2 separate regions of the Homo sapiens genome follow, and region 2 is linked to region 1. Evidence: fine-mapped expression QTL. A gene starts in region 1. The other region holds a variant in brackets. All regions are shown on one strand. Distances are from middle to middle. Region 1 holds the start of PEX7 (peroxisomal biogenesis factor 7). Region 2 overlaps PEX7 (peroxisomal biogenesis factor 7).

What was found. PIP is the estimated chance that this variant, and not a neighbour inherited with it, causes the effect.
Region 2: its variant is the best candidate, but not a certain one, in a credible set for the expression of PEX7 in whole blood (INTERVAL, PIP 0.76).

The regions. Positions count from the first base shown.
Region 1 is chr6:136,814,474-136,830,152 of GRCh38, reverse strand. PEX7 (peroxisomal biogenesis factor 7) reads right to left here and starts at 7,561. Exons shown (of 10, transcript NM_000288.4): 1 at 7,358-7,561; 2 at 4,882-4,939; 3 at 3,684-3,834. The coding sequence starts at 7,487. RefSeq lists silencers at 1,615-1,815, 7,281-7,660 and enhancers at 6,951-7,110, 6,492-7,224, 7,225-7,957, 7,841-7,990.
Region 2 is chr6:136,870,939-136,886,617 of GRCh38, reverse strand. It overlaps PEX7 (peroxisomal biogenesis factor 7), which reads right to left. Exons shown (of 10, transcript NM_000288.4): 8 at 14,365-14,420. Among named protein-coding and RNA genes, the nearest start is that of SLC35D3, 44 kb to the left of the region's middle. The variant T/C (reference allele first, on the strand shown) is at 9,743.

The DNA of each region.
Region 1 (15,679 bases):
CTCACAACAGGTAACTTACAAAGCTGGGATTCAAATCCAAGATTGACTAAAACCATGCTATACGTCTTTATTATATACTCTCTTCCACAGAAGAAAATGACCCATTAGTTGCTCTTCTATTTCACAACACAGCTTCCCTGAACATACTGGTGGAAAAAAAAAAAACAGAAATTGGCTATGTTCATTATCAACTTTTTTTTTTAATAACTTTCTTTTAAGACAGGGTCTCACTCTGTTGTCCAGGCTGGAGTGCAATGGCACGAACTCAGCTCACTGCAACCTCCACCTCCCATGCTCAAATGATTCTTGTGCCTCAGCCACCAAATAGCTGGGACTACAGGTGTGCACCACCACACCCAGCTAATTTTTTTATTTTTAGTAGAGGCGGGGTTTTCGCCATGTTGGCCAGGCTGGTCCCAAACTCCTGGCCTTCAGTGATCTGCCCACCTCGACCTTCCAAAGTGTTAGGATTACAGGCATGACTCACTGCACTCAGCCTCATTTATTAATTTATTCAACAAATATTTACTAGCTCCTTAAAACTCTCATTTGAGCTTAAATCCTTTTAAGTATTTTTGAGTATCTGGCATATGCAATGGACTGAATATATCCCCACAAAACCCACATGTTGAAATCTTAACCCCCCAGTGTAATGGTTTTAGGACGTAGGGCCTCTGGGGGGTAATTAGGTCATGAATGTAGAGCCCTCATGAATGGGATTAGTGCTCTTATAAAAGGGATTTCCCAAACCTCTCTCATTCTCTTTCCACCACCTGCAGATACAATGAAAAGACAGCAGTAGTCTTTGACCTAAAAGAGGGCCCTCATCAGAACCCAAACATGTGGGCACCCTGACCTTGGACTTCCAACCTCCAGAATAGTAAGAAATAAATTTCTGTTCTTTATAAGGCACCCAGTCTATAATACTTTGTTACAGCAGCCTGAACAGACTGAGGCAGAAACTGGTGCCAAGAATTAGGGGTGCTGCTGTAACAAATACCTAAAAAGGTTATCTTCATTTATTTTTCACATAACCAAGCAAAATATGTGAAACAGTAAACTCTGACTGTTGAAGCCATTTAATTGTTTTCTATTACACTAACATTCAAGGCATCCTGATACAAACGCTTACCAAAAAGTGCATTTGAAAAGAAAACGAGGAAGTCTAACTAGAATAGCAGTACGCAAAACAAATTTAAAAAATTAAAAAACAGAAGTGTGTCTTCGGTTCAAGAAATCAGCTGCAAAATCACAGAATGATGTAAAACTGGTTTAATAGCAGTTCAAATAACAAAAGAGGTAAGTGTGTTACTAGCAGACTCAAAGTAACCTAACACTAAGACATGGCTGAGAACAATGTATAGCCACTTTAGGTAATATTATTAGAGCTAGGGGCTCAAGACTATGGTGGTAAAATCTTATAAAGCTTAGCCCTTCATCACATTTCTGGAATAAATTAGGTATATGTTGAAAGGGGAGTTGAAAAACAGGATTATCAAAGGAGGCTATCAGAAGGATGAAAGACGTACAGATCATGTCATCTGAGGACAGGACAATGAAATGACAAGTGCACAGTCTGGAAGAGAGCACGATGGCTATTTTCAAGAGGTTTCCTGGACAAGAGGGGCTGGACCTGGTCTTGCCACTTCAGAGAAAGACACTAAAAGCAGCAGTTGGTTGCTATAGAAGGTAGAGTTGGGATTACAAGAAGCAGTTTCTTAATAATCAGAACAACCTAAAAGTCAAATAAGTTATCTCAAGAGAAAGTGAAATTTACTTTCACTGACAGGAAGTAAAGACTGAGTGAGCATCCATCCAGGATATCCTAGAACAGTATTTTCCAGAGAGTAGTTACACCAGAGATTATTTTAACTGGTACATACATTTATTTTATTCATTACTTACTTATCTCAATGTACACTAAAAACAAATAAATGTACATACTAAAGTAGCCATCAACCCCATTGTTTCATGAATATTACTGTTTTAGGATAAATGAAGCAACGACTTTACTTGATTGAAAGAAAAACATTAAGTCAATATATTGAATTTACCTTAACTAGCTATATTATTTTATGATGTCAGTTATCATCCTTGAATTTATATAGATAATAAAAGGCACCAAAGATTTAAGAAAAAGGAAAAAAAAAACTTCTGAAAAGAAAAATATTTTTTAAAAAAGAAAGAAGGAAAAGAAATACATTATAATACAAGTGGTATAAAAAGATGTCAAACATCACAAAAACTAGCCTGGGCAACATAGCGAAACTCCATCTCTACAAAAAAAAACAACAACAAAAAAACACACACACACAAAAATTGGCTGGGCACGGTGGCTCACGCCTATAATCCCAGCACTTTGGGAGGCCAAGGCAGGTGGATCATGTGAGCCCAGGAGTTCAAGACCAGCCTAGCCAACATGGTGAAACCCGTCTCTACTAAAAATACAAAAATTAGCAGGGCACGGTGGCGCACGTCTGTAATCCCAGCTACTCGGGTGGCTAAGACATGAGAATGGCTTGAGCCCATTCCAGAAGGTGGAGGTTGCAGTAAGCCAAGATTGCACCACTGCACTCTAGCCTGGGCAACAGAGTGAGACCCTGACACACACACACACACACACACACACACACACACACACACACACAAATTCACACAGGTTCCACAAAAGTATCTGAATTTTGGACATACTGTTCTGTAGAGATTCGTGCATTGATTATCCTGAAACTAAAATTTCTCCTTTACCAAAATTGTCTTAATATTCAGTAATTCCCTGAAAACATAGTAATTTACAACTACATTTATTCAAATAGCTATCATAATTAAAATAGAAACTAAAATTTTTCATTATTTCAGTAACAATCTTAGAAATCTTGATTGTCAATAGCTACAGCTATAAAACATCTGGACCCCTCACATAACTAATCTTTACCACAAAAGACTGATATTCTTGCATCTAATAAGCATTTATTGAGGGCCTTCTCGGGCCAGGCACTGTGGTGGACAAAAATTTGAAAGTAGATTAGCAAGTTTTCATCTGAAGGATGTACTGCTCCCTTAAGGAAAATCTTAAAACATTTAAGGTAAAAACACAAAAAGAGGATGTCTTTATGTTCACTGAAAATATACATGTATGTTAGTACAACTGAAGCCCAAACTATTTTCTATGCTATACATACACACACACAAAATCTAGACACATGAACCAGATTTAGATATAAAATCCCTTCAGTAAGTTCTGCCTCATACTCAGTATTTTATGCTCTTGCTCCAATATACTCTGAAACACCTCGGGAATCTCACTGAAGCCCCAAAGGCAATCTTGTGATGTCTATGTGAAAAGTCCACCTACCTCTACCTTAAGGCACCATGTGGCAAGCACATTCTTAGAGCACAAAGAAAGTGATGGGCCTCTCAGGAGGAAATGGTGCCAGAGTACACTGCTGGAGGTGTTCTTTCTGCCTAATGAGAAGACTGACCTTTTCTTTTCTTTCCCCACTCCTTAGGCCAAGAGGTACTTTATGTTTGAATAATCAAATAATAAGTGACATCTAGTATGTATAAGAAATGCTAACGTTTAAACTTGTCCCCTGAAGATATTTCTCCATGTGTCCATCCCCAAATGGATTTCAACCAAAGTCGAAGAAAGAAAAATAATCAGCCCAGAAAGATTTCCCTCCTACCTCCTGAGCGTGTTCTTTATAGACTTGCAGTGGCCCTGCAGCTTTGGCAGTGTCCCAGAGCTGCAGCGAGCCATCGCCACTACAGGTGATGAGGACATGTTCGTTGTTCTCACTCCAAGTCACATCAAACAAACCATCATTCCAGTCAAAGCTACACTAGGAAAAAACAAACAACAAAAAAATACAACACTTACATAGGCAGCTACACAACAAAAAAAATAACAATTATGGTTTTTTTTCTTTCAATTTATCACACATTTTAACACGTATATCTCATGTAATCTGCACAACTACGGGAGTTAAGTAGAGTAGGTACTTGACAAATATGGCAACAGATTCAGAAAGGTTAAAAAAAACAGTCCAGTGGAATGTAGTAGTCCAAAAATGTAATAGTACACAGTATACTGCTCCACATTTTTTTATGTTTAAATTTTATAATTTATGAGTGGACACTAAGAGACAGGCTTCAGATTTGTTTTGTTTTTTATTTGAGAGAAAGAGTCTTGTTCTGTCATCCAGGCTGGAGTGTAGTGGCCCAATCACAGCTCACTACAGCCTTGAACTGGACTCAAGCAATCCTCCCACCTCAGCTTCCCAAGTAGCTGGGACTACGGCCTAAAAATTAAAAAAATTTTTAGGCTGGGCCCAGTGGCTCACGCATATAATACCCACTTTGGGAGGCCAAGGTGGGCAGATCACCTGAGGTCAGGAGTTTGAGACCAGCCTGGCCAAAATGATGAAACCCCATCTCTACTAAAAAATACAAAAATTAGCCGGGTGTGGTGGCGGGCACCTATAATCCCAGCTACTTGGGAGGCTGAGGCAGGAGAATCACTTGAACCCAGGAGGGGAAGACTGCACTGAGCCAAGATGGCGCCACTGTACTCCAGCCTGGGTGACAGAGCCAGACTCTGTGCATAAAAAAAAAAAATTTCTTTTAGAGACGGGGTCCTCCTATGTTGCCCACGAGGCTGGTCTTGAACTCCCGGCCTCAAGTGATCCTTCTGCCTCAGACTTGGGAATAGCTGGGACTACAGGTGCGCACCACCACAATCAGCTAAAAATAAGCTTCATCCTATGCAAACGCCAAGGTTCCTTTTATACTGTATATTAAAACATTAATCAAAGAGTCAAAACCTAATTCTATTAAGGCTTTAATAGCAACAATATATACCTTTAATAATTTCAGCCCCCTTACCTTCTAAAAAGCCTTAGCCCAGCTTCATCTGGATCCAATATTAGTAGGGTTCCACAGCCTAAAGAGAAAAAAAATCAAGGTCATCCCTTTGAACCTGCCAGGGTAACATCGAAAGTCAAGGAGTTATCAAGTAATTGATACCTGATTTTAATACCACAAATTTTTCCCCAAAGTATTTGGGACCTTGAATACCAAATGGTCAGGTGATCAATTTCTCCCTAAAGTTTTTGGGACATGAATACCAAATGTGTTCTCTATTTCTGTTTTTCCATATTGTACTTCAGTTACTAAATATTCAACTTCCCATTGCACCTATGATTGGAATTCAGACATGGACCTAACAGGGGGGTGAAATACTTAAGGGCCTACTCTGTAGCCAGACAAGGCACCAGAGACACAAACCTTCCAAGTTGGTGTTATCATTCCTACTGACAGATGAGAAACCTCTGGCTTACAGACCCCAGGGACTGCACTCCTCACCAGTAAATCTAAAACACATCTCACACAGGATTTTAAAACAAAATATGAATGCGGAGATACTTGGTGGGATTTACTACATAACTGGTGGTAATAAAGTGCTGAAAACAGTATTAATATGTTACCTGTCAAAGATTATTTTACCAAAGGGCCATTGTATTTTAAAAGTTATGTTTACTTTTTATAGAGACCAAGGGGGAAAATCTCTTCTATTTAAACATGACTGAATTTTTTTTTTTAAATACCAATTCCCTTTAAAGAGTTTTTGCATAAGATTTTAAGTAGCATTACAGGCCAGTCACAGTGGCTCACGCCTGTAATCCCAGCACTTTGGGAGGCCAAGGCAGGAAGATCGCTTGCACCCAGTTCCGGACCAGCCTGGGCAACATAGTGATACCCTGTCTCTACAAAAATAAAAAATCAAAAATTAGCCAGGTGTGATGGTACATGCCTGTGGTCCCAGCTACTGGTGAGGTTGAGACAGGAGGATCATATGAGCCCAGGAGGTGGAGGCTACGGTGAGCTGTGATTGCACCACTCTACTCAACCTAGGCAACAGGGTGAGACCCTGTCTCTAAAGAGAAAAAGAAAAAAGAAAAAAAGAAAACTACTACCATTATAGACTCATGAGTCTTCAGTCTAACTGGTGGGCCATGTAAATCTGAATGTGCAAGCACTAAGAGCTAATAATGAAAATAAATCAAGTATTTCTCTGAGTTTTAGAAGTAACATTTTTTTCTGCTGTAGGACAAAACAAAAAAATACAATAGACCACTGACATTATGAAATGAGTTTTTGCATCTCGCTTCAGTGCGTATAATAGCTAGGACATGAATTAAGGCAAAAGCGAGAATGAACCTACGCCTTTTCATCTAGTCCACGGACTAGATGGACTCTTTTTTTTGAGACGGAGTTTTGCTCTTCTTGCCCAGGCTGGAGTGCAATGGCACGATCTCGGCTCACCGCAACCTCTGCCTCCTGGGTTCAAACTATTCTCTTACCTCAGCCTCCCGAGTAGCTGGGATTACAGGCATGCGCCACCACGCCCGGCTAATTTTGTATTTTCAGTAGAGATGGGGTTTCTCCATGTTGGTCAGGCTGGTCTGGAACTCCCGAACTCAAGTGATCCGCCCACCTCGGCCTCCCAAAGTGCTGGGATTACAGACGTGAGCCACCGCACGGCGCTTGGCCTTTTTTCTTTTTAAGACGGGGTCTCAGTCTGTCACCCAGGCTGGAGTGGAGTGATGTGATCTCAGCTCACTGGGCTGGGGCAGAGTGATGTGATCTCAGCTCATTGTAGCCTCAACATCCCGGGCTCAAGCGATCCTCCCGCCTCAGCCTCCTGAGCAGCTTTAACCACAGGCTGAGCCAATGCGCGCGACGGGAGACAATTAACTGGAGTCTGTAACACCTACTTGCGAATGTGTGCATTCCTCGTTAGACAACTACAGGTAAGAACTGAACTTGATATATTTCATGGTGTCACCCGTGGGACTCCAGGCGTCCATTCAGGAGCATCGTCCTTAGGAAGGCCAGCCCGCAGGTCGCAGCTCAGTGCTCGAATGCAGACTGGGAATTGTGGGCCAACTCGCGAGCCCTGGGTCGGTTCTGGCTCAGACCGTCTTCCCCGTACTGCTGTGCCGAGCGGACCGATCCAAGGGACCGCGCAGGCTCCCCCGGCTCTCCCTACGGGGACGTGTGCCTGGGCGTGTGACACGTGGCGGAGGCAGCGCGGTCTCAAGGAACAAGGACACGGGCTACTAGGCTACACGTATATGCACTTGCACACAACTGGAAGATCGACTCCTGCTTCAGACCAACTCCTCGCACTCGGCAAAGAAAGGAGAAGCGCCGACCAGCGCCTCTTCTGCCCCCTGGCGTGGACCCGCGGAACCGTCTACGCTCAGAGGGGCTTTCCCTCGAGCGCGAGGAACTGGAGCCCGGCTGGCCCCCGCCTCCGCCTCCGCCCCCCGGCCCCAGCTGCGCGGCGCCGCCTCACCCGCGATGCCGTAGTGCTGCGCGGTGGCGCAGGCCAGGCGGCCCGGCAGGTACGGGGAGAACTCGGCGGCGTAGCCGTGGCGTCCCGGCGTCCGCAGCATCCGCGCCGCTCCACCGCACACCGCACTCATCCCGCCCGCCGCCCCCGGCCCTCGCTGCCCCGGCCGCGGAAGCCGTTCCGAGTCGGAGGCACACTGGCGCGGTTAGAGAGACCAGGCAGACCGGACGGAAGTGTGGGCCCCGTGCCCTGTGTTTGAGATTCTGATTGGTCCGCACAGGAAAGGGCGTTGACTCCGACGGAGACCATTTTTGTTTTGGGTGAATCCAAACTGAATTGCGCCTGCTGCAAAGATACAGATCTATCAGGGGAGTGATCCAGGGTTAGGTATTATTAATAATTACGACAGCTTTTGTCGTTGCATCTCAGCCTCCTCTGCGGTGCTATCTGGTTTTTATTTCATTGAGCGTTTGGAAGACTGGCATCAGGAACTTTTCCTGATGATTATAAAGTGAGAAAAGTTACAGCCGACTCTGAAACCACGCAGCGCGTCCAAAATTGCGTGCTGCGTTGCCCAAGGAAACTGGAAGCAATGAGAACTTAAGTCCGTGGAGTCACTGCGGTCTTTAGGAATAAGAGCGTGGGCTGGTGGGCTACTTTCACACTGTAACTGGAAAAGATGAAACACCAACTCCAAACCAACTCCCCATGCTTGGCAAGTGAGAAAAAGGAGCTGGCCAGTTCTAATGAAGCTAAGCAAAAAAGCAGCACATCATCATATACAACTTTTTTAAAAAGTATTACTATACATGTATATATTGTATGGTAATAAGTGCTCAGATGCTGGTGCTCATTCATTCATTTATTGCCAGGCATATACTATGTGGAGAATGACCAAATATAATTTATCTGCCAAACCAAGATACTTTTGAGAGTAAAGAGGGTGTAATTATTAAGCCAGGTCAACAGGCACAAACCAAGTCGTATGATCATCTTAACCATATACCAAGAACAGTACTAGGCATTTGGGATTCAAAATAATGGGATATGGTCCATGGCCTCAAGAGATTAGAGAAGAAGACTAAAAGAGAAGTCATGTAATTAGTTAAGTGTAATCAAAATACTGTAGAGGCTATGATAAATTTATATGGGGTATTTTTAAAAGGTGATTGTCCGTGCCAGAGGTATGGAAATTGCAGGAAAGGCTGCAGAAGAGAGATAAGTCTTTATGGTGATTGCACACAGATGAGTAGGTTTTCTTTAGGTAGACAAGAAGATGGAGATCTTTGTAGGAGCAGGAATAACATGAGCAACCCAGGAGATTTAAACCAGCATGATCCATAGGGGGTCGTGGCTGCCAGGACTCAGCCTGGCCAGATGGAAGGGATACGGTGAAAAAAATATTGGGTGGGGAGACTGTAGAGTGTTTTACTGGGGCTAGATCATGAAGAGTCTTATATACCATACTAAGAGAATTGGATTTCTACTGTAAACAGTGAAAAACAGTGGAAGTTTTCTAATGTGAGAAATTAAATGACCAAGGTTTTATTTTAAAAAGTCCTGCAACACTAATATGGAGGATAGAGTTTGGAGATGGGGAGGCCAGTTAAAAGACTTTTGCAGGCCGGGCGCGGTGGTTCACACCTGTAATCCCAGCACACTAGGAGGCCGAGGCAGGCGGATCACTTGAGGATCCAGACCAGTGTGGCCTCTATTATTTTGGATTTTTATCATATGTAGTCACTGGAATGTATGCTGCATGAGGGCAGAAATTTTTGCTTGTTATGTTCGCTGTTGTATCCCAAGGACCTGGTATTTAAGCATTCAGGAAATGTTGAGTGAATGCAGCCTAATACAGTGCCTAAATGATCAGTGTGTTTTTCGTAATACTACAAAAAGTAACCTGGAAACATTCTGGAGTTTATTGAAATGCTAAATAGGCGTTAATAAAATATCAAAGTAAGCAAACATGAAGCAGCTGGGACCTTGGCAAAGAGTTGTATATAAAGAGTTATCCAATCTAAGCTAAAAATAGTGTGGTATCTCTGGGAGGGAGAAAGGCTGGTTCCAGCTGGGGTAAACTATTTACAGTGACCTTGGACATACACACACACACACAAACTGAGCTATTACCTGCTCCTTACCTAACCATACATGATTATAGCATTGTAAAATATTTCATCCCACCTGTGAAGCTTTCTAAAATATAAACAACTAAACATATAAAAAATAAACCATACTCTTACACTAGATTTTGAGCATCTCGAAGTAATGTCCAAGTCTAATTTGTTTGTGTCTCCAGTACCTTGAAGAATGTCCAATATATAGTAAACACTGCACAAATGTTTGACAACTTGAGGTGAACTGGAAAATTAAGGAAAAGGAACATGAAATGCTCCTTAGATTCTCCTTGTCCCCTGCCCTTGCTCCACACCCCTTCCTCCACCCATGCTTTACTAAGTGGAGTCCAAGTTTGCTAGGGGTATGGATAGAATTGGAGTTAAGAATTGCCTGGAAGGGACGGGCATGGTGGCTTATGCCTGTAATCCCAACAATTTGGGAGGCCAAGGCAGGCAGAACACTTGAGGTCAAGAGTTTGAGACCAGCCTGGCCAACATGGTGAAACCCTGTCTCTACTAAAAATACAAAAATTAGCCAGGCATGGTGGTGGGCACCTGTAATCCCAGCTACTCTGGAGAAGGCTGAGGCAGGAGAATCGCTTGAACCCTGGAGGCAGAGGTTGCAGTGAACTGAGATCACACCACTGCACTTCAGCCTGAGCGACAGAGCGAGACTCCGTCTCAAAAAAAAAAAAAAAAAAAAGACTCTTTTTGTTGTCTTCCACCTGTTCTTGTCATTGTTTAGGAGTACTTGGTATTTCCCAACTGAGACAGAAACCATTTTTTATGAGCATTCATTACACCTCAGAGTTGTGTAACTTCTAAACTTGGCCAACTCTGTGGAAGACCATTTAACTCTGTGGAAGGCCTAATAATGTAGGCAGACATGGCTAGATGTCAGGTTTCTATAAGGATCTACAATTATATTTAGATTGTTTTGTTTTATAACTGCTATGGTGACCTCACAAAGACTCTAACTGCAAATATTTACCAACCCACATCATTTTTAAAACTAGTCTATCTTTCCCATGGAGAGAGACCAGAAGTAAAATAATTGAAATACGTGGTCTTTCTACCCAGGTGAATCATTATCCTAGGTAAATCGGCAGGCTGCATATGGTAGTTATGGGAAATAATTCCAAGAAAGGATGGATAATTTCATTGTTCCTTTTAGCTCTGCACAGCATTGTGCTGGGTACCTAGTTAGCCTTTAATCAATGTTTGCCAGAGGGTTAATGTAATCATCATCCAAGAACTTTAAGCACTATCTTCAAATATATGATGGATACTTGGACTGATGCACTTTAGAGACCCTTAAAGCTCTGAGAGTCTCTAATTATGGGCTAATTGTCTACCTTGCTCGTTTTATATCATTCATCACTTATTATTTTAGTTATACTTTCTTGTTAAAAATTTTAGAATCTGTGGTAATGTAAAATGGTGCAGCTGATATGGGAAATAGGATAGCAATTGCTTAAAAAATTAAACATAGAATTACCATATAATCTCGCAATTCCACTTTTGGGTATATATCTAAAAGAATTAAATGCAGCAATTCAAACAGATATTCGTACACTCCTGTTTGCAGCAGTATTACTCATAATAGCCAAAAGGTGAAAGCAACCCAAGTGTCCATTGGCAGATGCTATGGTCTGAAAGTTTCTGTCCCCCCCAAATTCATATGTTGAAATTTAATCACCAATGTGATGGTTTTAAGAGGTGGGGTGTTTGAGATGTAATTAGGTCATAAATGAGATGATTACCTTTATAAAAGAGGCTGGAGAGAGAGCCCTCTTACCCCTTCCACCACGTGAGGACACGGCAAGAAGTGAACATCTATGAACCAGAAAGTGGGACCTCACCAGACATAAACCTGCTGCTGATGGCTTGATGATGGACTTTCCAGCCTCTAAAACAGTGATAAATATATTTCTGTTGTTTATAAGGTACCAAGTTTATGATAGTTTGTTATAGAAGCCTGAACCAACTAAGACAATAAATGAACACATAAAGAGAATGTAATATATGCATATGGTGGAATATTATTCTTCCCTAAAGAGGAGGGATATTCTTACATGGATGAACTTTGAAGACATTATGCTAAGTGAAATAAACCAGGCATAAAAGGACAAATACCGTATGATTCCACTTATATGAGGTACATAGTGTAGTCAAATTGATACAGACAGAAAATAGAATGGTGGTTGCCAGGGGCAAGGGGAAGTGGGGAATGGAGAGTTATTGTGTGACAGGCATGGAGTTTCAGTTTAGGAAGATGAAGTTCTGGAAATAGATGACAGTGATTGTATAACAATGTGCATATACTCAACATCACTGAAATGTCTGCTTAAAAATGGTTAAAATGGTAAATTGTATGGTATGTATATTTTGCTACAATAAAATTAGAATCTTAACTAGAGTGTTGGTTTAGGACATACATTTACTGCACTTCTATGTGGAAGGAGAGAAAAAAAATATAAGAGCAATTGGTATAATCTGATCATAGTAGAAAATGCATTTAGTCTTTTCGTCTTTTTCTGGAAAGACAGCAATTAAGAGCATGGTGTTTAGAGTCAGAAACCTGGGATTGAAACCAGGCCTTATGCTTTTTAGCTTGTGTGGTGGAAAGTGTGTGACATCTATTTATCTACTTTCAGCTCTTGGGTAGGATTAATATTTTAGATGATGCTGCACATGTACTGACAGCTCCTTGATTCCCCACATGGCTGGATAGACAGGTGCCTCTTCTGCAGGCTCAACTCAACAAAACAACATGAGGTGTGATACATTGGCTGTTTCAAATCCATATGCTGATAACATCTCCCTCAAAAGGTTGTTGTGAGGATTAAATGGGGCAGGTATCATGTGTAACTGTAAGCCCTCAATTGGCAGGGGCTATCATTTTAGTTGTGTGCATTCTAACTTGGCTCAAGTATTAAAATTACTTCTTCATGGCAGAAAATTAAACCCTCTAGTTCCCATTTCACTCTTTTTCTTTCTTTCTTTCTTTCTTTTTTTTTTGTTTTTTTTAGATGGAGTCTCACTCTGTCACCCAGGCTGGAGTGCAGTGGCATGATCTTAGCTCACTGCAACCTCCACCTCCCAGGTTCAAGCAATTCTCCTGCCTCAGCCTCCTACGTAGCCTCCTACGTAGCTGAGATCACAGGCATATGCCACCATGCCCAGCTAATTTTTGTATTTTTAGTAGAGACGGAGTTTCACCATGTTGGCCAGGCTGGCCTCAAACTCCTGACCTCAAATGATCTGCCTGCCTTCATCTCCCGAAGTGCTGGGATTACAGATGTGAGCCACTGTGCCTGGCCCCATTTCACTCTTGATTCTCTCTCTTAACCTCTTTTGCTATCACCAAGAAGTAAGGATTTCTCAATGCTGTTAGTACTTTGCTAATTTTTTGGCTCATATACTTTATAATCATGATGAAGCACATCTACGTTTTAAGTTGCCCTCTAAAATGTTTTCTCGTAACTTTAAATAGCTGCAAATGACATAATTTCAAGTTTATTGAAAATTAATGTCACTTTAAAAGTAAAAATATTTGATCAACCTTAAATGTATCATATGGATTCTAAAAACAATAGGCTTTTGGTACTTATCATTATTATATTAGTTATCTATTACTGTGTAACAAATTGTCCTTAAGCTTCACAGCTGAAAACAACCATTTATTATCTCACAGTTTCTCTGGGGCAGATAAAAGTCTCTCACAAGACTGCAATCAGGGGGTCAGCCAGGGCTGCTGGGTGATCTGAAGACTTGACTCGGGGAGGATCTACTCCCAAGCTTCCTCAAGTAACTGTTGGCAGGATTCAGTTTCTTATGGACCATAGGGCAGAGGGCCTAAGTTTATGGCTGGCTAATGGCTAGTGACCTCCCTCAGTTCTGTGTCACATGAAGCTCTCCATACGGTAGTTCATAATATGGCAACTGGCTTTCCTCAGAGCACACAGAAGAGAGAGAGAGAGCAAAAGAGGAGAGCAGCATAGAAATCATAGTGCTTTGATAGCCTTATCTCAGAAGCCTCATCCCATCGCATTTGCTGTATTCTCTTTGTTATAAGCAAGTCTTTAGGTCAAGCCCACTCTCATGGGGATGAGATTACACAAGGGCATAAATATTATACCTGGGGGCAAGGATCATTGGGGGCCATCTTATAAAGCCTGCTATCCACTACTATCAATTTTTTAAAAAACATTCGAACAAGGTCATTTTTAACTGTTAGAAAAATTTGTCTAAATGACGAGTTAATGGGTGCAGCACACCAGCATGGCACATGTATACATATGTAACTAACCTGCACATTGTGCACATGTACCCTAAAACTTCAAGTATAATAATAATTTTAAAAAAAGAAAAAAAAAGAAAGCTGAAACTGGATCCCTTCCTTACACATTATACAAAAATTAATTCAAGTTGGATTAAAGACTTAAATGTTAGACCTAAAACCATAAAAACCCTAGAAGAAAACCTAGGCAATACCATTCAGGACATAGGCATGGGCAAGGACTTCATGTCTAAAACACCAAAAGCAATGGCAACAAAAGCCAAAATTGACAAATGGGATCTAATTAAACTAAAGAGCTTCTGCACAGCAAAAGAAACTACCATCAGAGTGAACAGGCAACCTACAAAATGGGAGAAAATTTTTGCAACCTACTCATCTGACAAAGGGCTAATATCCAGAATCTACAATGAACTCCAACAAATTTACAAGAAAAAAACAAACAACCCCATCAAAAAGTGGGCAAAGGACATGAACAGACACTTCTCAAAAGAAGACATTTATGCAGCCAAAAATACACATGAAAAAATGCTCACCATCACTGGCTATCAGAGAAATGAAAATCAAAACCACAAAACCACAATGAGATACCACCTCACACCAGTTAGAATGGCAATCATTAAAAAGTCAGGAAACAACAGGTGCTGGAGAGGATGTGGAGAGATAGGAACACTTTTACACTGTTGGTGGGACTGTAAACTAGTTCAACCATTGTGAAAGTCAGTGTGGCGATTCCTCAAGGATCTAGAACTAGAAATACCATTTGATCCAGCCATCCCATTACTGGGTATATACCCAAAGGACTATAAATCATGCTGCTATAAAGACACATGCACACGTATGTTTATTGTGGCACTATTCACAATGGCAAAGACTTGGAACCAACCCAAATGTCCAACAATGATAGACTGGATTAAGAAAATGTGGCACATATACACCATGGAATACTATGCAGCCATAAAAAATGATGAGTTCATGTCCTTTGTAGGGACATGGATGAAATTGGAAATCATCATTCTCAGCAAACTATCGCAAGAACAAAAAACCAAACACCGCATATTCTCACTCATAGGTGGGAATTGAACAATGAGAACAGATGGACACAGGAAGGGGAACATCACACTCTGGGGACTGTTGTGGGGTTGGGGGAGTGGGGAGGGATAGCTTTAGGAGATATACCTAATGCTAAATGACGAGTTAATGGGTGCAGCACACCAGCATGGCACATGTATACATATGTAACTAACCTGCACATTGTGCACATGTACCCTAAAACTTAAAATATAATAATAATAAGATAAAATCAAAAAAAGAAAAATTTGTCATTTCTTTTTCTTCTTGAACTTGTAATTCCATTCTACTATTCTGTTGTAGAATTTTCTCTAATGTAATGTTCATTTATGCTTGAAATCATTTTATTGATCTCTTTATCATATTTATCACATTAGAAAATTACATACATAAACTGATGTTTTAATTTAATTTAATTAATTTTGAAATAGGGTCTTACTTTGTAACCCAGGCTGGAGTGCAGTGGTGCAATCATAGCTCACTGCAGCCTCAACCTCCCAGGCTCAAGTGATCCTCCCACCTCAGCCTCCTGAGTAGCTGGAACTACAGGCACCAGCCATCATGTCTGGCAAATTTTTTTATTTTTCATACAGAGGAGGGGTCTCACTATGTTCCCCAGGCTGGTCTTTAATTCCTGGGCTCAGATGATCCTCCTGCCTTGGCCTCCCAAAGTGTTAGGATTACAGGCATGAGCCACTGTGCCTAGCCTGAAATTTTAATTTTTAAAAAATTTCCTGGGGCCGGGTGTGGTGGCTCACACCTGTAATCCCAGCACTTTGGGAGGCTGAGGTGGGCAGATCACCTCTGGGCAGGAATTTGAGATCAGCCTGGCCA
Region 2 (15,679 bases), 56 kb before region 1:
GGCTGTAAGCAATATAATTATGTTATTAACGTAATGCTAGGTAAGGCATGAATGATTAATATCTAGCTCTCCCTAAAGTACTTACATTTTAAAATGGGAAACATTATTACTACTAGTATTCTCATTTAAAACATCTGCTAGTTTTTTGAGCTCTTATTATGTGCCAGAGTATTTACAGATACTACTTCATTTAATCCTCTGAACATCCCAGCAAGGTAGATCACAGTATCATTTCCCATATTTCACAACTAGTAAATAGAGGAGTCAGCTTTTCACTTCAAGTATGACTCACTCAAAGGTCTACATGCTCACCCCACTACATAATAGATGTCTAATCTATAGAACGTTTCTAAATATCTCCAAAGAACAGGGATGTGGAAGGACAGAGCTGATTCTAGATAACTTCCTATCCCCAATTCGTACTTCTCTTTCACCTCCAAGGAGCAGAGGGCAACAAAAGGCTAGATGGGGCTGCTTGCTCTTACTGCTGTAAAATAAAATTACCTCACTCTTGAAGACTAGAGCGCTGAAATGGCCTCAAGCCCAAGGAGACAGCCTTCTGTCACCATCCATTCTAGCCTTAATAATGACAAAAGTAGCAAACACTTACATAGTACTTACTATGTACCAGTATTTGTGTATATTAGCTCTTCTAACCATCACAACAATCCCATGTGGTGGGTACTATTAGCATCTCCATTTACAGGGATGGGGAAACTGAGCCATCAAGTTTTAAAATAACTTGCTCAAGTTTATACAGCTAGTAGAAGGCAGTCTGGCTCCAAAGTCTGTGGTCCTACTATGTTACCTGGGAATGTGCCAACCCATAATTACTCTATTGAATATATATCTTCCAGTACTCCCTATTTACATTTGTGACTACATATGTCCCACGATACCAACAAAACTGACAGGCTTAGGGTTCTCCTAGGTGTGTTACTACTTGTCTCCAAGCCTTCATTTTTATCATTTCCTCAAAAAGACATTTCAAACTGTCTATTACAATGGCTGGCAGATAACAGACATTCTGTAAATATGCCTGAATTTTAAAGTAGAGTACAGTTGTACAATTTTGTCACCAAAAAGTAGCTTAACAGTTGAGTTGGAAACATTAATGTTGCTGACATAGGCAGAGAGAGACTCACATCACGCAAACTGTGGCTGAATACAGTTTGACAACACTGAAATTAAAATTCACTTTATATTTTTCTTGCCCCCAAATCCATATGTCTAAAAAAATTAAGTGCTTGGTCTGGCTTATTATTATCAAAGGCCATTAAGACCACTGATAAAAAAGTTTTAAAGGTTATAATATTTATAAAAGTATCATGAAACTGGAGTGTTACTCTGAGGCTAAACTGGTCATTTTAGCTTTATCAATTAAAATCTTCAGATATCTGAGAATTTGCTACAATGTGGAAGACACGGAATGCTGCTCTTCCTAATGAAAAAAACTATGAATTATAACAGCTTTTACTTTTGTTTGGTTGTCATACATACCTGGTTTGCTTTTCTGTTTATGAAATGATCTACTTGGTATGAAACCAAAAACAAGCATTTACAACTCAAATAATGCTTATGCACGGTTGGCACAACAAATGTGGCTTGGCAGGAAGAGAAGTTAACTAACTTAAGGGACAGTATATAGGAAAAAGATAATATGCTAAAATCTACGATGATAACATTCATGGAAGAATAGAAATAATCTACTATGAAACATTTTAACTTTAGTATTATCTTGAGTGAAGTTTAGAAAGAATCAAGATGTATTTTGATAGACTATATTGTCCACCAGCTGAAGGGAGTTCTGATATTCTTCATAAAAGTTGAAGTTTTTATTTAACATAAACCATACTAAACAATTTCCAATGCTATGTTATATATCACTTCTTAGATCTTCATTAGTTATTCTGTGAAATGTAATGAGCTACTACAGAGGTAAAGGTCTTAAAGCTTCTATTATATTTGGTAAATAGCAACATGAATTTCAAATAGAAATATGAAACTTACATTTTCTAAAATATCCACCATATCATCAGTTTTGATATAACACCCACCATATAAACAATTTTAAAATTAAATTTGAAAAATTTACAAACCTAAATATAACAATGGGCAACAAATTAAAAACTTATATTTAAAAAGCTTGTGTTGCAAATATTAGCCATCCAGAGAATCTAAAGGTAGTATCTGTATAGTTATCAGTCCTAAAAATTAAACAGGTTACTGTTGGTCTTATATCTGAAATCTTTTTCTTCTTGTTAAAATGGTTTTCTGACACTAAAAATATCATCAATCCAATCAGATTTAAAATTCTTCAGAGGATAAATTTAACTCATATCACATGGAGTAAAAATCCACCAAAAATGCACCTTTTCTGACCTTTCCAATCAGTGGTCACCACATTCAAATAATGAGACTAGACTCACACAGGCATTAGAACGATTAAAGTCTTATTCTCGACATGTGTTGAGAATTACAAATATATATACATGTAATATAGTCAAAAGTGAAGGGTTTTCAAATGATTTTGGCTTCCTTTTCTATTTATTTTCCTTGTTACAAGAAAGTCTTCGATAATCCTATATTGGAATATGCAATCACTAGCCTCCAGTTACATTTAGCATGGAGGTGAAACAGTAATTTAGTAGCTACAACGAATGTTAAAATTAAAATTATATTTCTAAAAAAAATGATGTTGCTTCTATATACTGCCTGTGAAGCAATGCTCCACTTCGTACTGGGAAAATGTTTACCAATTTTTCAAGAAAAAGGAGAATTCCAGGTTTTTGGCTTGTTTGAATAGGGATAAGTTTCCCATTAACTGAGATAAATAACACAGATAAACAAGCAAAGAAGGAGTTCAGTGTGAGATTCCTGTTTGGACACTCAGGTGCCTGTGTCCAGAAACAGCTGAATATGCAGGCCTAAGGCTCTCAAGAAAGGCCAGACCTGACACAGGGGCTGGAAATTATCATTTAGAACGGGCATGTAAAAAAAGTTCTAAACCAAAGGGAGACGACCAAGTTTAAGGGGAAGAGAAGGAGACTGATTCTATGATGAACCCTAAGAAGGAAGGGTCAGAGGAGAGTAAGAAAAACAAATAAACAAAAAAGAACATGGAATCCTTAGGATAAGGAGTTTCCAGAAGGGAAGGTATGATCGACGGTGTAAAACAGAAAAAGGTTCAGCATGACAAATGCTGACAAGTGGACTGGATTTGGTTTTACAGAGGTCGCTAGTGGCTTTTGCCAGAGCAATTTCAGTAAAGAAGGAGGGACTGAAGCTAGTTGTGCCATTAGGAAGAACCTTAAGTGCCTATGCCTATAAGCTTTCAAAGGTCTACAAAAATGCCTGAGACCTGAACATTTAAATTAAACTTAAAATAATTAAATTTAAAATTAATAAATTAACATTACTAATTGATAAACCTGGCACTCAGAAACATTTCATTCCACTCGGAAACAATTTCTAGGTTAGGGATGTTTCTTTTTTACTTCACATGAATTCCTTAGCAAGCATAATGATTGCCAAGAAGTCATAATCAATCATAAGTGACTTACTCAATCCAAATCACTTCAAAAGCAAAAGCCACAAATCTTTTCAAAATAATTAACCCTATTTAATCAGTGATGTAGATCCATTTTATAGGTTCTAGTGATCCAGGGTAAGACCTCCAACACAGAGTACGCTGGGACAGTGAAGACCTTAAAATGGCCCTGGTGAATGGAAGCTTATGCGGACACTAAAAGCTTGGCTAAGTAAAAAAGAGAGATGTAAGAGAGGAGTTAAAGGCAAATGCAGGATGAAGGAAAATGTTACAGGCTGAGGAAAAAGTCACTAAAGAGTTGGAGACTAAAGATATAGAGAGATATAGGGGGAGAACAGGTCACTTCACGGCGTAAAGTCCTGAAGAAAACAAGTACGAGGGATCAACAGCACACATGTCTAAGGGATCTAAATAACAGGAGGAATGAAGAGGTACAGATTTAGAGAAAATCTGCAGGCCCAGCTTAGAAATTAAGATAATTTGTGCTTGAGTCCCACAATTATTATTATTATTATTATTTTAAAGGTAAGATCTTTTGCTGAATGTGCAGGGAATAGGGTTGGAAAGATGGCTTTAGAAGAGAGGCAAAGGGCCAGGTGCGGGGGCTCACGCCTATAATCCCAGCACTTTGGGAGGCTGTGGTGGGCAGATCACTTGAGGTCAGGAGTTCGAGACCAGCCTGGCCAACATGGTAAAACCCTGTCTCTACTAAACATACAAAGATTAGCTGGGTGTGGTGATGTGTGCCTGTAGTCCCAGATAGTCAGGAGGCTAAGGTGGGAGAATCGCTTGAACCCTGGAGGTGGAGGTTACAATGAGCCAAGATCACACAACTGCACTGCAGCCTGGGTGACAGAGCAAGACTGTCTCAAAAAAAAAAAAAAAAAAAAAAGAAGAAGAAGAGGGGGAAAAGCAATTAAGAATTATCATAGTATTTTCAAGAACGTCTTCTCATATATTTCTTGTAATCACCCTGTGAGCTTGTGAGCACAGATATCACTAGTTGCCATATTACACATTAATAAAAGAAACCTGGACTCTAAGTTATACACGATCATTGATTTCAAATATCTTCTTAACTTTCTGTTTAACTTACGTTAAAGATCTCCTATTATTGAACTATAAATCTCAATTTTTCCAAGTGCTTACAAATATAGCTACAACACCTTTGATCTGGTCTCAGGACCATGACCTAAGCCACCTCCCTCCCCAGGGGCACTAAATATCTATCCCCCGCTCCCTGTCCTTGCTCAGGACTCAGCATTTAACAGTGGAGAGAAAAGTAAGACTGAAAGCCAAAAACTATGATGATTCTGAGCATGGTTTGATACTCCCAAGATTTTCAGAAATGTAGTTGACATCCAGTCTTAACAAACATTCCTGAGAACAAGGCATTTTCCCACAGGGTGTTTAGGGGTACTTAAATACATAAAACAGGGAGTGGTCAGTCACTAGGATTAAGATCAAAATGACAATTCTGAGAAGAAAGTCTCAGTAGTCATTAGATTTTTCTCTTTAATCAGAAACAAAGCACTGAAATGGATTTAAGATGTCCCAATTAAAACTGTTAAGAATACCAAATATGAGATCACCAAAAGATTAATGTCTCATCTCAGTTTATGCCTTCTTGCTTCAAATGCCAGAAAGGTGTTCGAATTCCAAGAACTAGATCCTATATGTGGATATCTTTTTGAATCCATGAGCGACAAAAAGAGAAGATTCCAAGTTCTCTCTTCATACTGCTTAACCTATCTGGTGGATCTGACATTACTGGCCATTCACACCTTGTTGAAAGCCCCTCCTCCCACAGCTTCTGTGACTATTGCATGCTCTAAGGTTTCCTCCTGTTCCTGGTGGGCTGCTCCTTCCTGCTTTCCAACATGAACTCCCTCCTGAAGGAGGGAATTTTTGTTCTTTCTCTACACTTATCTCCCTTTGGCTTATTCATTCTTATGGACTGAATTATCAGTGAGTAAATGGTGTCCAAATCTACATGCACAGCCTTAACCTCCAGCCAGTGATCTAGCTCCACAGTTCCAGTTTCTTCCTTTCTGTTGTGTTGCCATTCGTTAGTTCCCAGGCTGAAAACTTTATAATCACTACTTATTATTTTATATGGAATACTAAAAAACAAACAAAAGCCTGGTTAAAGTACACTTTTGAGAGCTGGGAGCCTCCATGTGATTATTCTTCCCAGCTGTCTGCCCGCTTGTATTGAATGAATCAAGAAAACCAAGTTAAGGCATGAAATACATCTCAAAGCATTGTTGTAATTTATTCTATTAGAAGTACATTTTATACAAACAAAGCTATATAGACTGGGCCATATCTAATACGGACTCAGAAGTGAGGAGAGAGGAGAGTCTAGGCAATGAGGCCATGTAAATCCAAAACTGTTACTGTATTCTTACAAAAACCAATACAGAACAACAAAGAGAACAAATAAAACTACACAAACCTCAGGTCTTCCACACATCCAAACTTCAAATTAACTGTAAGAAGAAAAATCAAAACAGAATCCCTATGAGCTCTCTTCCTTGTTCCAGCTGCAAGCCTGTGTGAATGGCAAGGACAGTGTGGGGAACACTGAATGGTACAGAGAGGGCAGGAGCTAGGACTAGGTCTAACGCTGACCTAAAACCATCATGAGAAAGAGAAAGTGCATCCTATGAGTGAAAATACTGGAAAAAGGCATAATAAAGATTAGATTACAGATTTTAAAGTACACTGGATACAGGGAGGTGATCTTAGAAAGTTGATAGTTTAGGGGTGAAAGAAAATTAAAAGGAAGGAAAGGTGCCAACCTCAAACCATCAACCCTGTCCACAGATATAAAGAGACAAAAAAGTCTTTATTTATTTTTAAAAACACACACATACACAAATAAATGGTTACAAGAATTCCAACAATTCATCTGACAAAAGCTTCCCTCAAAAAAAAAAATAGTGAAGTAGAAAACCGTAACATATTCTAAACTGAATCAAATTATCTTCAAGCAAGCATTTAGGGACATGGAAGAAAAAAAACCAACAAAACCCTTGATCAGGAACTCAAAAACAAAGAAAAGAAGTGGACAAAAACAGAAGAACTGAAACAGACCTGACTGAACTGAAGAAACACAAGAAAAAAGGCAAAATCATTTCACAAATAAACACAGAATTACATTGGGGCCCAAGAAGAGCAGATTCACACAAAAACATAATAAGGGCATTGAGGACAACAGGAAAACAACCAAAAGAATGAAAATGAGATAAAGAAATATAGAAGGAAAAAGTATCAGACAGAAAGTACCTGAGAGAGAAGACAGGTAAAGGAGAGTCCTTTTATACATAATGGGAGTTCCACAGAAAATAAAACAATTAAGTAGAACTATTATTTAAAATTGTAATTCAAAAAACTTTCTAGGAATAAAAGAAGACCCAAATCTATATACTTAAAGAGCTCACTGAGCCTGCAGCAAGAAAAACTGAAATGCAACAAGGGTTCTTTTTCCCCAGGGTCTCGAGGAGGAGGGAAAGGATTGATGGTTGGGGTCGGGGTGGTGCCAAACAACTTACAAGTAAAAGAGAGTTAGACTGGCATCAGAATTCTCAAAAACGACATAGAAAGCAAGATAAAAACATAGTAGCATTTTCAAAAACCTCAAAGAAAGAAATGTAAATCAAGGAGTTTATATTCAGCTAAACTATCCTCCAAGTAGGAAAGCTACAGAAAAATAGTTTTAAACATATGAGAGTTCATGAGAATTCTATGCCCATCAGTCCCTCTTGAGAAATCTATGGCATTTCCTGAAGATAAACTGCATCAGATAATGAGGGAAACTTAGGAATAAAAAACTGATAATGAGCACTTAATATATTTAATTATACACTTAAGACTAAAACAAAGGTAGAAACTAAGTAAAAATATATCATATGATATGTGCTATATGTTACATGTTGCATGTTCTAACAAAGCATAAATGAAACAAAATTTGATGGAAAAGGGAAAAAAAAGCGAAAGTAGAACAAGTTCACTGGTTATTATATAAGAAATAGGTGGGATTTCACAAAAATATAATGAAAAACTCACAACCAGGCAATAAACGGTTAATTTTTTTCAGAAAACTTATGAAGGCATTTAAAAAGTTGTAACACCAAAGGCAACCACTAAAACATATAAAAACTTACCTAAATGTCAAAAAAAATTTGTCAAAGAAAAAAACACAACAAAAAAGCACATCACACACAGAAACATAGCAAATAAAATACAAATAATAATCATAACATAAAATATGACACATTCGATGCTAAACATTTTTATCAAGAAATATGAAAGAGTTAAACTTACATATTCTAATAAAAAGACTATTTGTTCACTAAGCGAGATCCTAATATATACTCTATACAAAAACATACCTAGAACAAAATGGTTCAACAAAACTGTTTAAAAATAAAGGTATGGGGGTTCAAAATACACAAATCAATAAACATAACCCATCACATAAACAGAACCAATGACAAAAACCCCATGATTTTTGATGCACAAAAGGCTTTCGACAAAATTCAACACCCTTCATGCTAAAAACTCTCAATAAACTAGGTATTGAAGGAGAGTATCTCAAAATAATAAGAGCTACTTATGACAAACCCACAGCCACTATCATACTGAATGGGCAAGAGCTGGAACCATTCCCTTTGAAAACCGGCACAAGACAAGGATGCCCTCTCTCACCTCTCCTATTCAACATAGTATTGGAAGTTCTGGCCAGGGCAATCAGGCAAAAGAAAGGAATAAAGGGATTTCAAATAGGAAGAGAGGAAGTCAAATCGTCTGTGTTTGCAGATGACATGATTGTATACTTAGAAAGCCCCATCGTCTCAGCCCAGAATCTCCTTAAGCTGATAAGCAACTTCAGCAAAGTCTCAGGATACAAAATCAATGTGCAAAAATCACAAGCATTCCTATGCACCAATAATAGACAAACACAGAGCCAAATCATGAGTGAACTCCCATTCACAAATGCTACAAAGGGAATAAAATACCTAGGAATCCAACTTACAAGGGATGTGAAGGACCTCTTCAAGGAGAACTACAAACCACTGCTCAAGGAAATCAGAGAGGACACAAACAAATGGAAAAACAATCCATGCTCATGGATAGGAAGAATCAATATCGTGAAAATGACCATACCACCCAAAGTAATTTATAGATTCAATGCTATCCCCATCAAGCTACCATTGACTTTCTTAACAGAATTAGAAAAAAACTACTTTAAATTTCATATGGAACCGAAAAAGAGCCCATAAAGCCAAGACAATCCTACAAAGCTGGAGGCATCACACTACCTGACTTCAAAGTATACTACAAGGCTACAGCAATCAAAACAGCATGGTACTGGTACCAAAACAGATATATAGACCAATGGAAGAGAAAGGAGGCCTCAGAAATAATGCCACACATCTACAACCATCTGCTCTTTGACAAACCTGACAAAAACAAGCAATGGGGGAAGGTTTCCCTATTTAATAAATGGTGTTGGAAAAACTGGTTAGCCATATGCAGAAAACTGAAACTGGACACCTTCCTTACACCTTATACAAAAATTAACTCAAGATGGATTAAAGACTTAAATGTAAACCCAAAACCATAAAAACCCTAGAAGAAAACCTAGGCAATACCATTCAGGACATAGGCATGGGCAAAGACTTCATGACTAAAGCACCAAAAGCAATGGCAACAAAAGCCAAAATTAACAAATGGGATCTAATTAAACTAAAGAGCTTCTGTACAGCAAAACAAACTATCATCAGAGTGAACAGGCAGCCTACAGAATGGGAGAAAATTTTTGCAATCTATCCATCTCACAAGGGGCTAATATCCAGAATCAACAAAAAAAAAACAACCCCATCAAAAAGTGGGTGAAGGATATGAACAGTCACTTCTCAAAAGAAGATATTAATGTGGCCAACAAACATATGAAAAAAAGCTCATCATCACCAGTCATTAGAGAAATGCAAATCAAAACCACAATGAGATACCACCTCACAACAGTTAGAATGGTGATCATTAAAAAGTCAAGAAATAACAGATGCTAGAGAGGATATGGAGAAATACGAAGGCTTTTACACTGTTGGTGGGAGTGTAAATTAGTTCAACCATTGTGGAAGACAGTGTGGTGATTCCTCAAGGATCTAGAATCAGAAACACCAT[T/C]TGACCCAGCAATCCCATTACTGGGTATATACCCAAAGGATTATAAATCATTCTACAATAAAGACACATGCACACATATGTTTATTGCAGCACTGTTCACAATAGCAAAGACTTGGAACCAACCCAAATGCCCATCAATGATAGGCTGGATAAAGAAAATGTGGCACATATACACCATGGAACACTATACAGCCATAAAAAATGATGAGTTCATGTCCTTTGCAGGGGCAGGGATGAAGCTGGAAACATCATTCTCAGCAAACTAACACAGGAACAGAAAACCGAACACCGCGTGTTCTCACTCATAAGTGGGAGTTGAACAACGAGATCACATGGACACAGGGAGGTGAACACCACACATTGGGGCCTTTTGGGGGGTGGGGGACTAGAGGAGGGATAGCATTAGGAGAAATACCTAATGTAGATGACTGGCTGATGGGTGCACCAAACCACCATAGCACGTATATACCTATGTTAACAAACCTGCACGTTCTGCACATGCATCCCAGAACTTAAAGTATAATAAAAAAAATTTAATCGGCCGGGCGCAGTGGCTCACGCCTGTAATCCCAGCACTTTGGGAGGCTGAGGCGGGTGGATCACGAGGTCAGGAGATCAAGACCATCCTGGCTAACACGGTGAAACCCCATCTCTACTAAAAATACAAAAAATTAGCCTAGCATAGTGACGGGTGCCTGTAGTCCCAGCTACTCGGGAGGCTGAGGCAGGAGAATGGTGTGAACCCAGGAGGCGGAGCTTGCAGTGAGCCGAGATTGTGCCACTGCACTCCAGCCTGGGCGACAGAGCCAGACTCTGTCTCAAAAAAAAAAAAATTTAATGAAAGAATTGAAAATATGATAAAACAAAAAAAAAGGTATGGGGAAAAGCATATCTGGAAAGTAAACACAGTATGAAAGCGAGGGCAATGATTCTGATATGAGACAAGGCATAACTGAAACAAAAAGCATTAACTGTGACAAAGAAGGATATTCTTTAATGCTAAAAGTCTCAATTCACCATAATATCTACATACCAGAAACACAGCATCTGTTTCTATAAAATCAAAACTACAAAAGATGCAGGGAGATATAGAAGCCTGCTAATGATAGGAGATTTTAACATACCACTCTCAGTAACATACCATTCTCAGACTAAGTGGACCAATAATAAGAAGGGATACAGAAGGCCTAAACAACATAATCAATTTGTAAGCTTATGATTATATACTGAACTTTACAGCCTGAAAATGGAGACTGTACATTCTTCTGAACTGCAAATGAAACATTCACAAAAACTGATCATTTATTAGGTTCCACTTCCCCCAAATTTCAATATGTTCCATAGAACAGAATGACTAAAATAGTATTCTCTGATTTTAATGCAATAAAAGTAGAAATTATTAACAAATTTTTTTAAGTTAAAAGGCATTTTCATATGGAAACTAAATAATTTCCTATTATACACCTCTTGGAAGAAAAGGCAAGTATAAACAGAACTTACAAATGTTTTAAAATGATAATGAAAACATTATATATCAGAATCTATGGGCTATAGTTTGAATAATAACCAGAAAAAAATTTATAGCCTTAAATACTTTAACAAAATGAAAGAATAAAAATAAATTCCTATCTCAAGAAGCTGAAAAAAAGAACAACAAAAAGAAAGTACCAAAAAGGAAATAATAAAAATAAAAGCAGTGATTAATAAAAAAAAAAAGTTCTTTTTTTTTCTTTTTTGAGACAGAGTTTTGCTCTTGTTGCCCAGGCTGGAGTGCAATGGCACGATCTCGGCTCACTGCAACTTCTGCCACCTGGGTTCAAGCAATTCTCCTGCCTCAGCCTCCCCAGTAGCAGGGATTACAGGCATGTGCCACCACGCCCAGCTAATTTTGTATTTTTAGTAGAGACGGGGTTTCACCATGTTGGTCAGGCTGGTCTTGAACTCCTGACCTCAGGTGATCCACCCGCCTCAGCCTCCCAAAGTGCTGGGATTACACGCATGAGCTACTGCACCCAGCTGAAAAAAGTAGTTCTAATTGATAAATTAAAATTCTGCCTGCTGAAGAAAAATAACAAAATAAACATACCACTAGATATTCAAAGAACTTATTAAAGATACAAAATCAGAAATAACAAGAGTAAAACAACCAATGAAAGAGAAGAAATCCTACAACATTCCTTTATAGACTTTTTTTTTTTTTTTTTTTTGAGGCAAAGTCTCACTCTGTCACCCAGGCTGGAGTGCAGTGGTATGATTTTAGCTCACTGCAATCTCTGCCTTCTGGGTTCAAGCAATTCCACCTCAGCCTCCCAAGTAGCTGGGATTACAGGCACCTGCCATCATGCGTGGCTAATTTTTCTATTTTTAGTAGAGACAGGGTTTCACCATGTTGGCCAGGCTGGTCTTGAACCCTTAACCTCAGGTGATCTGCCCACCTTGGCCTCCCAAAGTGCTGGGAATACAGGCATGAGCCACTGTGTCCACCCACTTTACAGACACCTCTACGAATAAATTTGAAAACCTAAAAGCAAGGGACAATTTCCAAACTTGATCCCGTTAGAGATACAAAGTTTAAACAGACTCACTTCCATGAAAGAAATGAAGTTATCAAGAAAGTACTCCACAAAAAGCACCATGCTCCACTAGTTTTGCAGAGCAATCCTACAAAGGATTCAAAGACCAAATAGCCTCAATGCTGTACAAGTTGTTCCAGAGCTTTGGAAACAAAGGAAAATTTCTTAATTCTTTTTATGAAGCAAGTAAAACACAGACACATTAAACAAAACGAGAAAAGAAAGAAAACTGCAACTAATATCACCTTTGAATATTGACGCAAAAGCTTTAAATAAAATATTAGCAAACACAATTCAACACCATGGTGAGAAAATGATACACAAAGAACGTGAGAGACTTACTCCAGGAATGCAAGGTTGGTTCAATCCATTAATATAATACATCATAGCCATATCTCTAAGAAGAAAAATCATGATTATCTCCATAAATGCTGGGAAAAAAAGCCTTCAACAAAACTTAAGACCCATTCCTAATTAAAAAAACTCAAGAAAATAGGAATTCATGCATACTTTCTTAGTATGACAAACAAGTAAACATATATAATTTGCATTAAAGTCAGAATCTTATTTTTAATAGAGAAACACTAAAGGCGTTTGTACTCATATCAGGAATCAGACATTCTCTATAAACTATTTAGCACTGTATTAGTGGTATTTGTGGAGGGAATTTTAAGAAAAATCAATTAGAGGCATCAGAATTGGAAATGAAGGTGTAGAACCACCTTTATTTGCAGGTGATAAGATCATACATCTGGAAAACCTTAATGAATCAATGATCTTTAGAAGGCAGAGAAACAGGTACTCTCAAACATTGCTACTGAGTATCAAAATTGGCATATTCCTTATGGATGGGAATTTGGTAATATCTAACAAAACTACATATGTTTACCTTTTAACTCAGCAATCCCACTTCTAGGAATACCAGACATTAATTCTCTAGTAACACAAAGCTATCATTCACTGTGGCACTGTTTATTTACAAAACATTGAAAACAAGCTAAATGTCCATAGATAGGAGGGTAGCCAAATAAACTATAGCACATCCACACAATGGTGTATTATGCAGAATGAGAATGATCTCTTTGATACAGAATGATTTCCAGGATATATTTTAGTGAAAATCCTGGAAACCTTTCTGAATATATCTTTATGTACATCTTGACTTTTGAAACCATGTCAATGTTTTGCCTAGACAAAATCAACAAGGATGGGAGGAAAACCCTAAAATTGAATACAAACAGAAACAAAGGAATCAAACCATGTTTCAAGTGAATAACATAACCACACTCTAACAGAGAAGAGGAGAATTAACCTAAGTAACTTCTGAATATAGTATTCAAACTAAAGACAAAAAAAACTCTAAGCAAGTGCTGAGCTCTAATTAGTAAGATTGTTTTTTTCAAAGGTATGGCTTTGCAATTCTGAACTACTTTCTAAGCATTACAGGGTTTAACACATAAGAAAATATATTGTGAATAAAATGGAAGTCAAGAGTTACAAATTTGGAAAGGGAAAATAAATCCTCTGTGGTATGGAACTGTAACTGGAAGTATAAATAGAGACCCACACCCACACACACTCTTATCTAGATATCCATGCACATATATACACATACATGTTCATATATCTACATTCACAAAAAATCATACACTCATGTTCATTGTTTTTTCATCTAAGCAATCTTAGCCTTACGACTCATATAATTAGACCTGAAGAAATGCAATTTCCAAATTTCTATATCTAAATTTAGAATATATTGGCTATGCCATCTATAGTGTAGGAAAGTGTTACCATAGGAACATCTATTAGAAAAGATGGCTTTTAAACAGAATAGCCAGGCTAATATTTGAAGAGAAAAAATTTACTCATATATGTGACTGGATCACGAAAACAGGAAAAATATAATATTAATCCTAGTAAATATTTAAATGTACCCATCTCAGATTATTTTCATGTTAGTAAGAGTAATCATATTATCTCTTATAAAAGTTGCAAAGATGCAAATGTTACCTGGTATTTCACAATGAAATGTATTAAAAACCACTGTACCTTACAGTAAAATCATACGAGCAAGAGGCCAGCACAGAAGCATGAAATGGTGAAAACTACAAAAAAAAAAAGAAAAAAAAAACCCTTTTTGAAGTCAGCTGTGATTATAACACTGCTTTCTATGATCATTCCATAAACATTATAATAAATTTAAGTTGAGTCAGAGCTGTCACTTAAAATTATGCTTTTTCAAAGCATATATGCTATAATTTGAGGCAAAAATCTTCTGGCCTTATAAGTATCCATCTTCAGGAAAAATATTTTTACATTCTCCAAAGAAAATTATCCCTCAAGCTTTTTAGAACTTATTTAGAATAAAATATTCCCAAAATGTTGCTATTCTGGAAAAATTAAATACAATTTCATATTGGCTATCCAAAAATGATTCTTACAGGCCAGATGCAGCAGCTCACACCTGTAATCCCAGCACCTTGGGAGGCTCAGGAGGGCAGATCACCTCAGGTCAGGAGCTCGAGACCAGCCTGGCCAACATGGTGAAACCCCGCCTGTACTAAAAATACAAAAGTTAGATGGGCATGGTGGCACATATGCCTATAATCTCAGCTTCTGGGGAAGCTGAAGCAGGTGAATTGCTTTAACCCAGAAGGTGGAGGTTGCAGTGAGCCGAGATCATGCCACTGCACTCCAGCCCCGGCGACAGAGAGAGACTCTGGCTCAAAAAAAGCAAAAGCAAACAAAGTAATAAACAAAAATGATTCTTACAAATATAAGGGATTTAAGTATATAAGAGTACAAATATATAATTATATAATTTACCAATTTTACAAATATATGATTGCTATAATCACGTTATCAAAATAAACATTTAAATGTTAAATAAAAACACCCTTAAGTTATTTTTACGTTATTTGTATATTACAGCTAATGGAAAATTATATCAAGGGTAAAAAGCAAGTTTAAAGACAAGTAACGTCTTCTAGATGAGTAATAATGTACTTAATAAGTTGACCTTTGCAATTACATTTCTTCAGTGTTTGTCTTATCGCACTTTAATAGTTAAATACACATATATAACTACATTTGACCAGCACTTAGTTTGCAAAGTACTTTCACTACATTACCTTATTTCATTCTCATAATCACTCTAAAATATACATAGAGCATATTTTTCAACTGCTAAAACTTGTCCAATTAAACAAATTTATTAAAAAATAAAACAGAGCACTGTGTCTCCTATGTTGCATTGCAGCCAGAGAAACTTAAAATATTAACTTAACTAAAAATTTAGAATTTTTGGCCAGGCACAGTGACTCAGCCTGTAATCCCAGCACTGTGGAAGGCTAAGGCAGGCAGA